Linked DNA regions of Homo sapiens: region 1 is linked to region 2. Evidence: fine-mapped expression QTL. Tissue or cell type: prefrontal cortex. Region 2 holds a variant in brackets; the other region holds the start of a gene. All regions are shown on one strand. Distances are between the middles of the regions.

Evidence for each region. PIP is the estimated chance that this variant, and not a neighbour inherited with it, causes the effect.
Region 1: it holds the start of GRM5-AS1, and the variant in region 2 is the best candidate, but not a certain one, in a credible set for the expression of GRM5-AS1 in prefrontal cortex (BrainSeq, PIP 0.78).

What each region holds. Positions count from the first base shown.
Region 1 is chr11:88,502,140-88,507,531 of GRCh38, forward strand. It overlaps GRM5-AS1 (GRM5 antisense RNA 1), which reads left to right and starts at 2,437. Exons shown (of 6, transcript NR_049724.1): 1 at 2,437-5,392. GRM5 (glutamate metabotropic receptor 5) reads right to left here. Exons shown (of 10, transcript NM_001143831.3): 10 at 2,503-5,392.
Region 2 is chr11:88,522,885-88,528,276 of GRCh38, forward strand. It overlaps GRM5 (glutamate metabotropic receptor 5), which reads right to left. Exons shown (of 10, transcript NM_001143831.3): 9 at 2,425-2,520. It overlaps GRM5-AS1 (GRM5 antisense RNA 1), which reads left to right. Exons shown (of 6, transcript NR_049724.1): 5 at 7-83; 6 at 1,118-1,170. Among named protein-coding and RNA genes, the nearest start is that of GRM5-AS1, 21 kb to the left of the region's middle. The variant C/T (reference allele first, on the strand shown) is at 2,637.

The sequences.
Region 1 (5,392 bases), 21 kb before region 2:
AGGAGACAGCTTCATTAGCAAAGTTAATGGATATTAGAATACTATAAATTGGGCCGGGCACGGTGGCTCACGCCTGTAATCCCAGCACTTTGGGAGGCCGAGGCGGGCGGATCACAAGGTCAGTAGATCGAGACCATCCTGCGAATGGTGAAACCCCGTCTCTACTAAAAATACAAAAAATTAGCCGGCGATGTGGTGGGCGCCTATAGTCCCAGCTTCTTGGGAGGCTGAGGAGGGAGAATGGTGTGAACCCGGGAGGCGGAGCTTGCAGTGAGCCGAGATCGCGCCACTGCACGCCACTGCACTCCAGCCTGGGCTACAAAGCGAGACTCCGTCTCAAAAAAAAAAAAAAAGAATACTATAAATTGGTAACTTCCGAAGTGAAGATAGCCATTTAATTTGGAATTACTACATTTTTCAAACTTTTAAGACTCTAAGAACTTTTATGAATCACCTATTACTATTCAGCAGTTCAGAAAAGCCACAATTTATTATGTGGTTTTCACGGACATAGAATTTGTATAATTTAAAATATAACATCTATCTCATCATAGAAATCTGATAGTATGAAAATTTTTATTTTTAATGTCAATGAATAAAAATACAAGCTATACATAAATAAGCCAAAGTGTCTGATATGTATATCACATAGGTATCCTGTATATAGATCATACCTCAAAGAGACTTATGTCCTGGCAAAAATAAATGTCTTTGTCCTGGTGTAACAGTAATTTAAAACATTTATTCTAGTGGAGGTTAAGTGTTCCTGGAAACTTTTGGTTCAGGATTCTAAGAGTGGCTGGAGAAGATGAGTTTAAACATTCTCTTCATAGAACTTATTTACTAACATAATAACCTAAAAGTAATAAACAGAGTGAGATGTAATAACTGATTCTGAGTTTTAAAATACTGTGAGAGAAAATGTAAATACCAAGCTTTTGCTTAAGGAGATAACTTCATTAATATAATTCTGCCTATCTATGTGCTTACCTACCTTTCTGCCTAGCTATCATACAAAGTAAATATTTGCAAATTGTTTATGTTCTAAAACTGATCATTCATGTACAGCATAACCAAAAACTTGGCCAGCATTCAGCAGCAATTATAACAGAGGAAAAGCATTCTCTCTGTGGTGTTCAATATCAATTTACTAAGTTGTCCTTGATAGACAGTTCCAAGGTTGCATATGAGTTCAAACCTCAATAGGTTTCCTCCAGGATATATGCTTTAAGTTGGACAGGAACTTGTTAAGCTCCACAAATAACATTGATATAACAAATTTAAGCTTCCTGCTGAATATTAACTGTATACTAAATACTACATTGACACTAATAATAGCTACTATTGAGCATTTATCAGGAATGTTGAAATGATAGAAACTTCACAGATTATTGTAACTCACTTCTGCATTTAAAGCAAGAGGAACAAGTTGTAGAGAAATCAGAGTGATTTATCCAAAGTCAGTTGGTGACAGGTAAGAGATCCTGGCTTTTAATTCAATGCTATTTCTATTGCATCCGCTGGTTTTAAATGGCCTTCCATAATTTGATGGAGTCTGATAAGGCTCTTTGGATTTTTAGAAGGTAATTTCCTGTACCTGGTTTGTATATGTCACTTCATCCTCAATTTTATGTGAACATATTACCATTCATATCACGTTAGAATAAAAGATACTGAAGGGAAGAGTCTGACAAAACAGATAAAATGGCTTTCTTTGTTAAGATCAAACACATTCTGTATAATATATGTATCTACATATGTATATATATCATTATGCATTTAATACAATGTCAGAAGCATAAATCAAATATATTTTTAAATATACCTTGTTTTTCTCTTCCATACATCAAGCATCTACCTTATATTCTGCTGTTAGTTTTTCACTAATTTGTGTCCAGGGAATGTATATTTGCTCAAGAATCAGTCAAAGTAAAACTTTTTTTTTTTCTGGAAAAATTATGTAATATGCACATACATCTACACACAAACACACATATACACAGAGACACATGCAGATGGACTCAAAAGTCAAATGTCTATATAAATATGTATGTTTGTAAACACACATCTATACACACACAAATAATCTATTTTATCTGTGTGATGTTACCTCTATCAACACATATAATTATGAAACTATTTCTATAATTTGTATGTCTAGATGCATAAACAATGCATATTTCCTATATATTTTTTTAAGTACTTCTTTATGTAACAGTTGTTTGTAGATGTGTTTGGGGACAACATCTCTGGTTGGTTTGTGGTTGGTTTATATTTTCATTTAAATCTATACAGTCCACTGCTTACTTTGTAAACCCCATAATTCAAATGTATAGATCATCCAGTATTCAAGATTAATTAGTATCATGGCTCTTTTCATCTCAGAAAACACTATTAAGACAACATTCTAAACATTTGAGGGGAATAATCTTAAAATCATATTATAGGTTTTTTAATTTTTTTGAAAAGTAACTGGCTTCACAAACACCAAGTACAACATGATTTAGACAACTGAGAAACAGGCAAGTATATTTTGAAGTGCTAAAATAAAACATATTTATACAAGTACAAAGCAAAACAATGCTGATAAAAATGTTAAACTTTATGAAAAAAAATCATTTGCAGTTCACATCAAAATAATTTAACATTCTCTATTATTTTAATAGTACAAGCTGCCACAACAGAGAAAGAACAGATACACGCACACAATTTTAAAACCAAATCAGTTATAAGTGCAGAAAAAAGTAAGTACAAGCACTTTTAGCCCACACAAATCTTTTAGGATTGGCACCATCTTTCTAAAACATCTATAATCTATATAGATTTCTAATTACAACACCATCAGCAGCTGCCATTGATTTCTAGAAATACACACAATATACATAGTATATTTGTTCACATTGGGAAGATCAGTGAAATTCAACCAACTATTTTATACATGCCTCATTCTTCAATAGACAGTAGAGACTCTCCCAGGCCTCAGACCCTCTTCAAAGTGAATTCTGACTTGTCTTTATGCTTTCACTGATCTGTATTTTTTCACAGTATAAAATTGTAAATGGTAACTATAGAGATTCTGACAGCTTGAGGGTTATTAATAAGCTGTTGCTAAATGTGAACTCACATAATACCTTTGAAGTCTCCAAAACATGTACATTTTACTGGGAGACTAGCATAGGAAATGCTTTTGTTTTTTGTTATTCTTAAAAAGAGCATTTAATTCCTGGCTTGGAAGTCACAGAACTGCAGCAGAGCTATTATACAATTCATTTACAGTCAGAAATAGCTCCTAGTCTTCCTGATCACTTGCTGGTAACAGCAGTAGTTTGGGAAAGATAGTTACTTTCAAGGATTAGCACGTTTGGGGATTTGCTTTTTTTCCTTGCTTCAGTCAAATCTCTTATAATTTTTCTTTCCATACTCCCTTTCTGTTCCCCATCCCTAGCCCAGAAAGACGGTTCTTCCCAATCCAGATATGTTCTTCTTAGGCTGCCCCCACTCCTTTCCCAAAATGGAAGGATGAGTGGACTGCTTAGATTAGTCAGTATAACTTGGTTAAACCACGTCTTCTTCTTTCCATCCTGGGACATATCTCTCATTTAGGGTCACTTTGCTGAGCCTTAGCATATCCCCTTCCTTTTAGTCATGCTGGTCCCGACTGAATTATCACTGGGCACCAGGAACAGATTGTTTTGAAGGAAATTCAATGAGAATGTACCCAAATGAATTGTGAAGTTCATATCCTATAGCCCTAGAATGAATATTCAGTTCTCTTTGTACTGTAGAGTTATTACTTGGAACCTGGTATTAGAATTGGCAAAGAGACAGAGTTAGCATCATTCCAAAATAAAAGATCTCAAGAATGCATTACTAATAATCTTATGTCCAACATACAATGTATTCAATGGAGTGGCAAAAGTTATAGAAATACAGAGAAAAATATATCTTGTCCTTTTCTAATTGGATAAATCATTTTTATTATTACAGTTGATTATGATAGCATGTGGAAGTATCAGATGGCAATTTACTTGCATTAAATTTAATTTCTGATGAAGTTTTTTATAAGGTAGTGTGCTTTTTAAGAGATATGTTACTAAAAAAATAGAAAATGAATTTGACCATGAACAAAGTTTAAACATGTTCTTCAACTGGTCTAGAGTGAAACGTATTGTACTTGAGAATAAAATGAAAATCAACATAAGGATTTTATAAAACAAATTTTAAAATGTAGAGCATATCAAGAAAGGTTTTTAATACCTAAGAAGTCAAGATAGGAATCCTCAGGTGAATGCCATCCTTTTGATGAGGATCCAAAGGGTATTAACACCTCAAAAGATTTCCATTTGTTTTTCAGATAGAGGCAGACATTTGCTTTTAATGAAACCATGAAACTTAGCTAGATTTCACTTACATTTTAAAAGCCTCGGTGTAATATTTGGGATCAGGGTGCTGTGATGATGTTATTTTCAAATCTAGCATGGGAGGTTCGATTTCTTTTAAATTAATACTTTAGTACATTAATGTTAGCTTTTAATGTTTTGTATTGGGAGGTTTGACTTAAAGTTGCAAGTAAGAACAAATAGCAGAAAAGAAAACTCAAGCAGAATATTTATTAGAATTTTTTAAAGTGAAGAATGATAAATTATGCCAATGGACTGACTTCTATTTCTCAGTTTATTTTCTGTTAAGTAGATGTGAAATAAAAAAAAATACTTACCAAAGTAAGGATATTGAGCTAAAAGAAAAAGTTTTATTTATTATTCTCTCTGCCAAAATATACTTCTGCCTCACAGCACATATTTTTCATAAGGCTATCTTAAGTATAAGGCTGGGTCAACTGAACTTTAAATTTATAGGACACCTCCTCCATTTATTACTATCCTTATTTAAAAATCAAAACATTTGGTACCTGAGGATAGCTGCAATGGGAGGAAGAAAGAGATGACAGTGGATTCAGGTCTTGAACTATGAATTCTACCTATTTGAGACTATCAAAGCACACTTGTTTCTGTTATACTCTAAATCTCTTTTCTGTAGTTTTAAAAAGTGACAGTATGAAGTGCACAAAATCATATTAATCATTATTTTAAAAAAGAAAATAAGAATTGCTTTGCCTCTTTTTGGAATGGCTAAGAAAGACTGTGTGGTTAATATTCATTAAGGTTCCTCTTTTTTAGTATTTTGTATTGCTTTGAAAAATCTACATTTGTCATAGTTCATAGCTGCCCTGTTTAAGCAGCCAAGAATAGTTAAAATCACTGCTCACTGGCATAGCTAAATCTCCACTAAGCTGACTTGACACAGTTAAAATTTTCAGTGTATTAAGATTGTGTTAATCCTTTCAACAACAGTCTCTCAAATCATGACAATGTCTTCATGGGGTCTATGGACC
Region 2 (5,392 bases):
TTGTAGAGAAACTCAGACCATTCTTGCTGGAGATACATCAAGTGAATACCTTTGTAGATCTGGACCTGACCCAAGGAAGCCTGGTATGTTTATCTGGGATCTCCTACTCTCTGTGTACTACCCTCTCTGTCCCTTTCCCCTCATTCTCAATTAAGACAGCCTTGAGCAAATTTAATTTCTGTGATGATCAGATCTAAAGCTCTAAGTATTGACTAAACACTGCTAAGAGCATCGAATTGCATAATTGAGACCAAATGCTTGCCACAAACAGCTCCATGTCATCTCCTACATGAATGGATTACTCTAAAATATCAGTTCATGCACTGGCTTCTTTGAGATGACCTAGGAAACTTGTTACATGACAGATTCCTAAGTTGTATTGCCCAATATTTTGCCTCAGTCTGTTTGATAGTCAGCTAAGTTTGCCAGGTTTGGGAACTCCAGTTTTAGACCTCAAATTAGAAGTCACTCTGGGAAGAGCCCTTGAGCACTCATTTGGTGAAGTCACTTTAACCTTGTCCAGCTTACTCTGGTGCTGTTTGCCTAATTTTCAAGGATATGAATTATGCTACTTTGTTATATCTAAGTGGAAGGAAAATAGGAGCCCCAATAGCATTCTGTTGAGTCACTTCCACAAAATGATCCTCTGAGACTCATTTTGCAGATGCACTGAGATCCAAAGATAGCTGTATAAAGGGATTGTAGGCATAAGGCCATCAGATACACCAAAGTACACACATATATGCCTACACATGTACACACACTATCATTGCCTTGTCTCTGAGAACCATAGACAAAGTTGGCCAAGCCCTTGGCCAGGACTGTTGTGAATGATTGCTCAAACTGTATGCTGAACAGTTCTGGGCACCATTTTCATAGACTGCAATATGAATAGTCCACCAGCAGTTGTGCAATATGGTGGGCCTTGGAAAAATGTAGTTATTATTTTGAAAATAGGAAGGAGCCCACCACTGAGGAAGCAAACAAAATGTTTGTGGTGAAATTTCAACAGGATTATCTTCTTGTTATGCAATTAGGTCTCAAGCTCTGCTCTCAGCACATGGACATGCATATGCACATACTCTACTTATTGAATTTTTCCTTTTCTCTAATCCAGGATGATTTGCAAAAGTTTTCCTTCCATACCTCTACACCACAGATGGATTGAGAAATGTCACAACAAATTAGAAGTGAAGAGTTAAGTCATGGCAAGTGACTCCTCAACTCAAGGCTCCTTCAACATTCTGGAACTGTTTAATGTCAATCTTGACTTTGTCTCCAGGGCCCTTTTCTTTTCTTTTTTCTTTTTCTTTCTTTCTTTCTTTCTTTCTTTTTTTTTTTTTTTTTTTTTGAGACAGTTTTCACTCTCGTTGCCCAGGTTGGAGTGCAATGGCATGTTATCAACTCACTGCAACCTCTGCCTCCTGGGTTCAAGCAGTCCTCTGGCCTCAGTCTCCTGAGTAGCTGGAATTACAAGCGTGTGCCACCATGCCCGGCTAATTTTTGTGTTTTTAGTAGAGACGGGGTTTCACCACATTGGCTAGGCTGTTCTTGAACTCCTGACCTCAGCTGATCCACCCGCCTTGGCCTCCCAAAGTGTTGGGATTACAGGCGTGAGCCAATGCGCCCGGCCCCAGGGCCCTTTTCTTAAAACCAAATCCCATGCAATAAAGCACGTTTATTTCATGCAACACAGCTTAGTTAATGCTTATACTTCCAAATACTCCGGTTTACTAGGTACAACTCAATCAGGAGTGCCTAGTATAAAAGAACATGCACAGCACAGCGACAGAGAATGTTCATCACCAAACACAAGGAAGCAAAGGAGATGCAAAGCTATGGTAGCTAGAGGAGGATTAGCTTTCCTGATTTCAGTTTGAGAAAAGCCACTTGTCTCTACAGTCCACTAGTTTGGCAAGGCATTTGCCCTTGGCTGTGAGATGATGTTACATTCAAAGTAAGGTATATTAATTTCCAGGCTTGTCCAGGATCAGGGGCTGGAGTCTTCCTTCAATAGTAATCCTTTCCTTAAAACCAGTTCTAAGCTTTGTATTTGTTTTATTAAGTGATTGGATAGCCCTGAAATATGAGTTTCCTCCAATCTCTTCCACTTTGCAAACTCCAGAACCGTTTGACCAATAAGTTAAAACCCAGAGGAGGACTGACTGTGAGCTAAGGCTTCAGACATGCAAAGCGCACAACCCTGGGAAACAGCAGCATCTGGGACAGGAGGCTCCCATTACTACACATGAGGGTGTCATAGGTTTTGCAAATCAAACACACATAGAAAACCAGTAGTAGCCTGGGTTGGACACACTGTATGAGTTGCACAGTTGAGTGAGGACCCAGACCAGGGAGCCACATGTTCCTCTAGCTTGCATACATTTATTTCACACCACCTCAGGCCACTCATAGTTTGCTTACCTGCTCATTGTTGCTCTCCCACCATTCCCCATACTCCCTTTGGGGGTGAAACACTCTATTTCCGACTTGTGCTGGGCCAGTCTCCTGTCTTTGTACCTGGTGAGCATGAACAAGGACAGGAGCAAACAGAAAGACGTGATTGTGTGCTTAACTGCCAGGCTGAGGAACGGCCGTGACTGTGGAGATGGTCACTCTGTGCCAAAATGGGGGTT[C/T]CTGCTTCTCAATGCAATGACCAACCTGTGATACTTATTAGATGAATGTGATGGCATATGGACAACATCAGGGATGACGTTGTTACTTTTTGGTTAAACCACATGTAACCCATTCTTTCACATTGCCTATTAAACTGAATATGTCACATTTAATAGTCAATGGTAAAGGTGTGCAATTTCTAGCATCTTAGAAAAAGATGAATATCAATCAACACATTAGAATCTATTCAGTGCTTACCATGTGTCAGACACTATGCTAGAACTTTACCTAAATTGTATCCAGGCAACAGCCCTGGGCCAGAGGCTTTGTTATCATTTCCATTTTACTGATGAAGAAACCTAAGATTATAGAGGTTAAGCAAATTAATCAAAGATTAGTTAATTAAATAAGTGGTTGGGCTGGATTTTGAATACAGGGAATCTAAGTTTAGAACCCACACTTCAGCCATTATAATGTGTTGCCTTCCATTATCAAGTTTTTAAGCTAATTATTATCTTGAGCAAGCCCTCATTGAGTGATACCATTCTGGATGTTGTTAGACATTGGCAATAACAGAGGAGAGAAGACATGTTCTTTGGATATTAAAAGTTTCTGTAAACATTAAGCTGAAGTTTTACTGTCAGTATTGGGATGCCGCCATTATTTTTGTATTATAATTGGCAGTTCACCGCGCTTTGAAGATACCAGATATTTCATCTAAAATAAGTGATGAGATTCCCAATATTACTCTTCTACGTGGTGCATCAAGATGAGTTCTTGTATCTCAATGACAGTTTTTTGAGCTAACATGATTTCACAGAAATAACCTCTTTTACTCATTGGTTCGATTCTGTAAGGTTTTTAAAAAAGAACTGTTATTTCCATTTGCCAGATGAGGAAGCTAGATTTACTTAACTGACTTCATGAAAGTCACAAGCCTCATCAGTAGAGAATAACCACCTGTAGAGCTTGCAGGGGCCCAGAGCTCTTAAGGTTTTATTACCTTTTCCCTAATTAAACTGGAGCCTGGTATAACACCACTTCATCCACCTTCCTGGTATCCAGTAGGCTATGATAAAGGGAGTTACTATAATAAGACTTGTTTATCTCAGTACAGTCACACTCTTTTTAGTTTATTTTCCTGCTGTTTCAAAAGTAGTATAAAATAAAATAAAATGCAACAAAGTCAACATCATTATTGATCCTGGGGCAGAGGCCTTCCTCTTAATTTTTTTTCCCTTCTAAAATGTTTAAAGTATCTAGTATTTGAAGAAAAATGGCTTATTACATCAAGCAAAATGAATTTAATGGATTACCTATTTAACGGACATTAGTTGAGCATTTATTAAATCCTAGGTAATGGACTTTGCACTACAGATGTAAAGATAAGTAATCTGCAGGCCCCACCTGTTAGAATTTACCTAACAGTAGGAGAAGGAAGGAAATAAGAAATACGTACACAAGTAATTTTAGATGTAGGCATAAAGAAGAGAGGAAAAGAACTTAGAGACTTTGTTAAAGGAGGTAAATCATCAGACCAAGCTAGATTGAGTAGACTTAATTTTACCAAGAAAATACCTTAGAAGTACCAATGGCCAAATGATGCTCAATGTTTCAATGCAAAGTATTTTGTGCTTCTTTGTGAATTGGATTGCTCAAGCAAAATACTGCTCGACAGCTCAAATTAAAAGAATATTGATAGAATAATAAATTATTGGTGGTCATTCACTTCCTTACAAAGGGATCCTTAACATATTTTTGAATATCTTCTGTTAGGCTAATTGTGAATTAATCATTAAATATTTCATAGATGAGTTAAGAAACCTACAGTCTTCATGCTTATAAGCTCTTCTCTTTCTTTCTTTCTCTCATGACCACACACACTCTGCCAGGTGACCTCTGTTTATGAAATATGGAATAGATCCTAAGCATCTTATTCTATCAAACTCTAACCTCTGTGAAGAAAAAGGAATGCTTACACACTGCTAGTGGGAATGGAAATTAGTTCAGCCACTGTGGAAATCAGCTTGGCAATTTCTCAAAGAACTTAAAGCAGAACTACCATTTGACCCAGAAATCCCATTACTGGTCATATACCTAAAGGAATATAAATCTCTCTATCATAAAAACACATCCATGTATATGTTCACTGCAGCACTATTCACTATAACAAAGTCATGGAATCAACCTAAATGCCCATCAACGGTAAAATGGATAAAGAAAATGTGGTACATATACATCATAGAATACTATGCAGTCATAAAAAGAATGAGATCATGTCCTTTACACATGAATAGCACAGGAGGGCATTATCCTAACCAAACTAATGGAGAAACAGAAAACCAAGTACTTCATGTTTTCATTTATCAATGGGAGCTTAACACTGAGTACGCATGGACACAAAGGGAAAAATAGACACTGGGGCCTCCATGAGGGTGGAGGGTGGGAGGAGAGTGAGGATCAAAAAACTACCTACCAGATTCTATACTTATTACCTGGGTGATGAAATAATCTGCATATTATACCCCTGCAAAACACAACTTACCTATAAAACAAACCTGCACATATACCCCTGAACCTAAAAGTTTAGAAAAACCATAGAAACAAAACAAAAAACAAAAACAAAACCTAACTGCTTTTGGTAAAAGCTTTCACTGACATATAAAAAACAAAATAATGAAAATTCAAAACAATAATAACAAAACTCATTTTAAAAATGTGAGCAATATCTTAGACTTTTTGGAACTTTCAAGCAGTTTTTGTATTCAATGCAAGC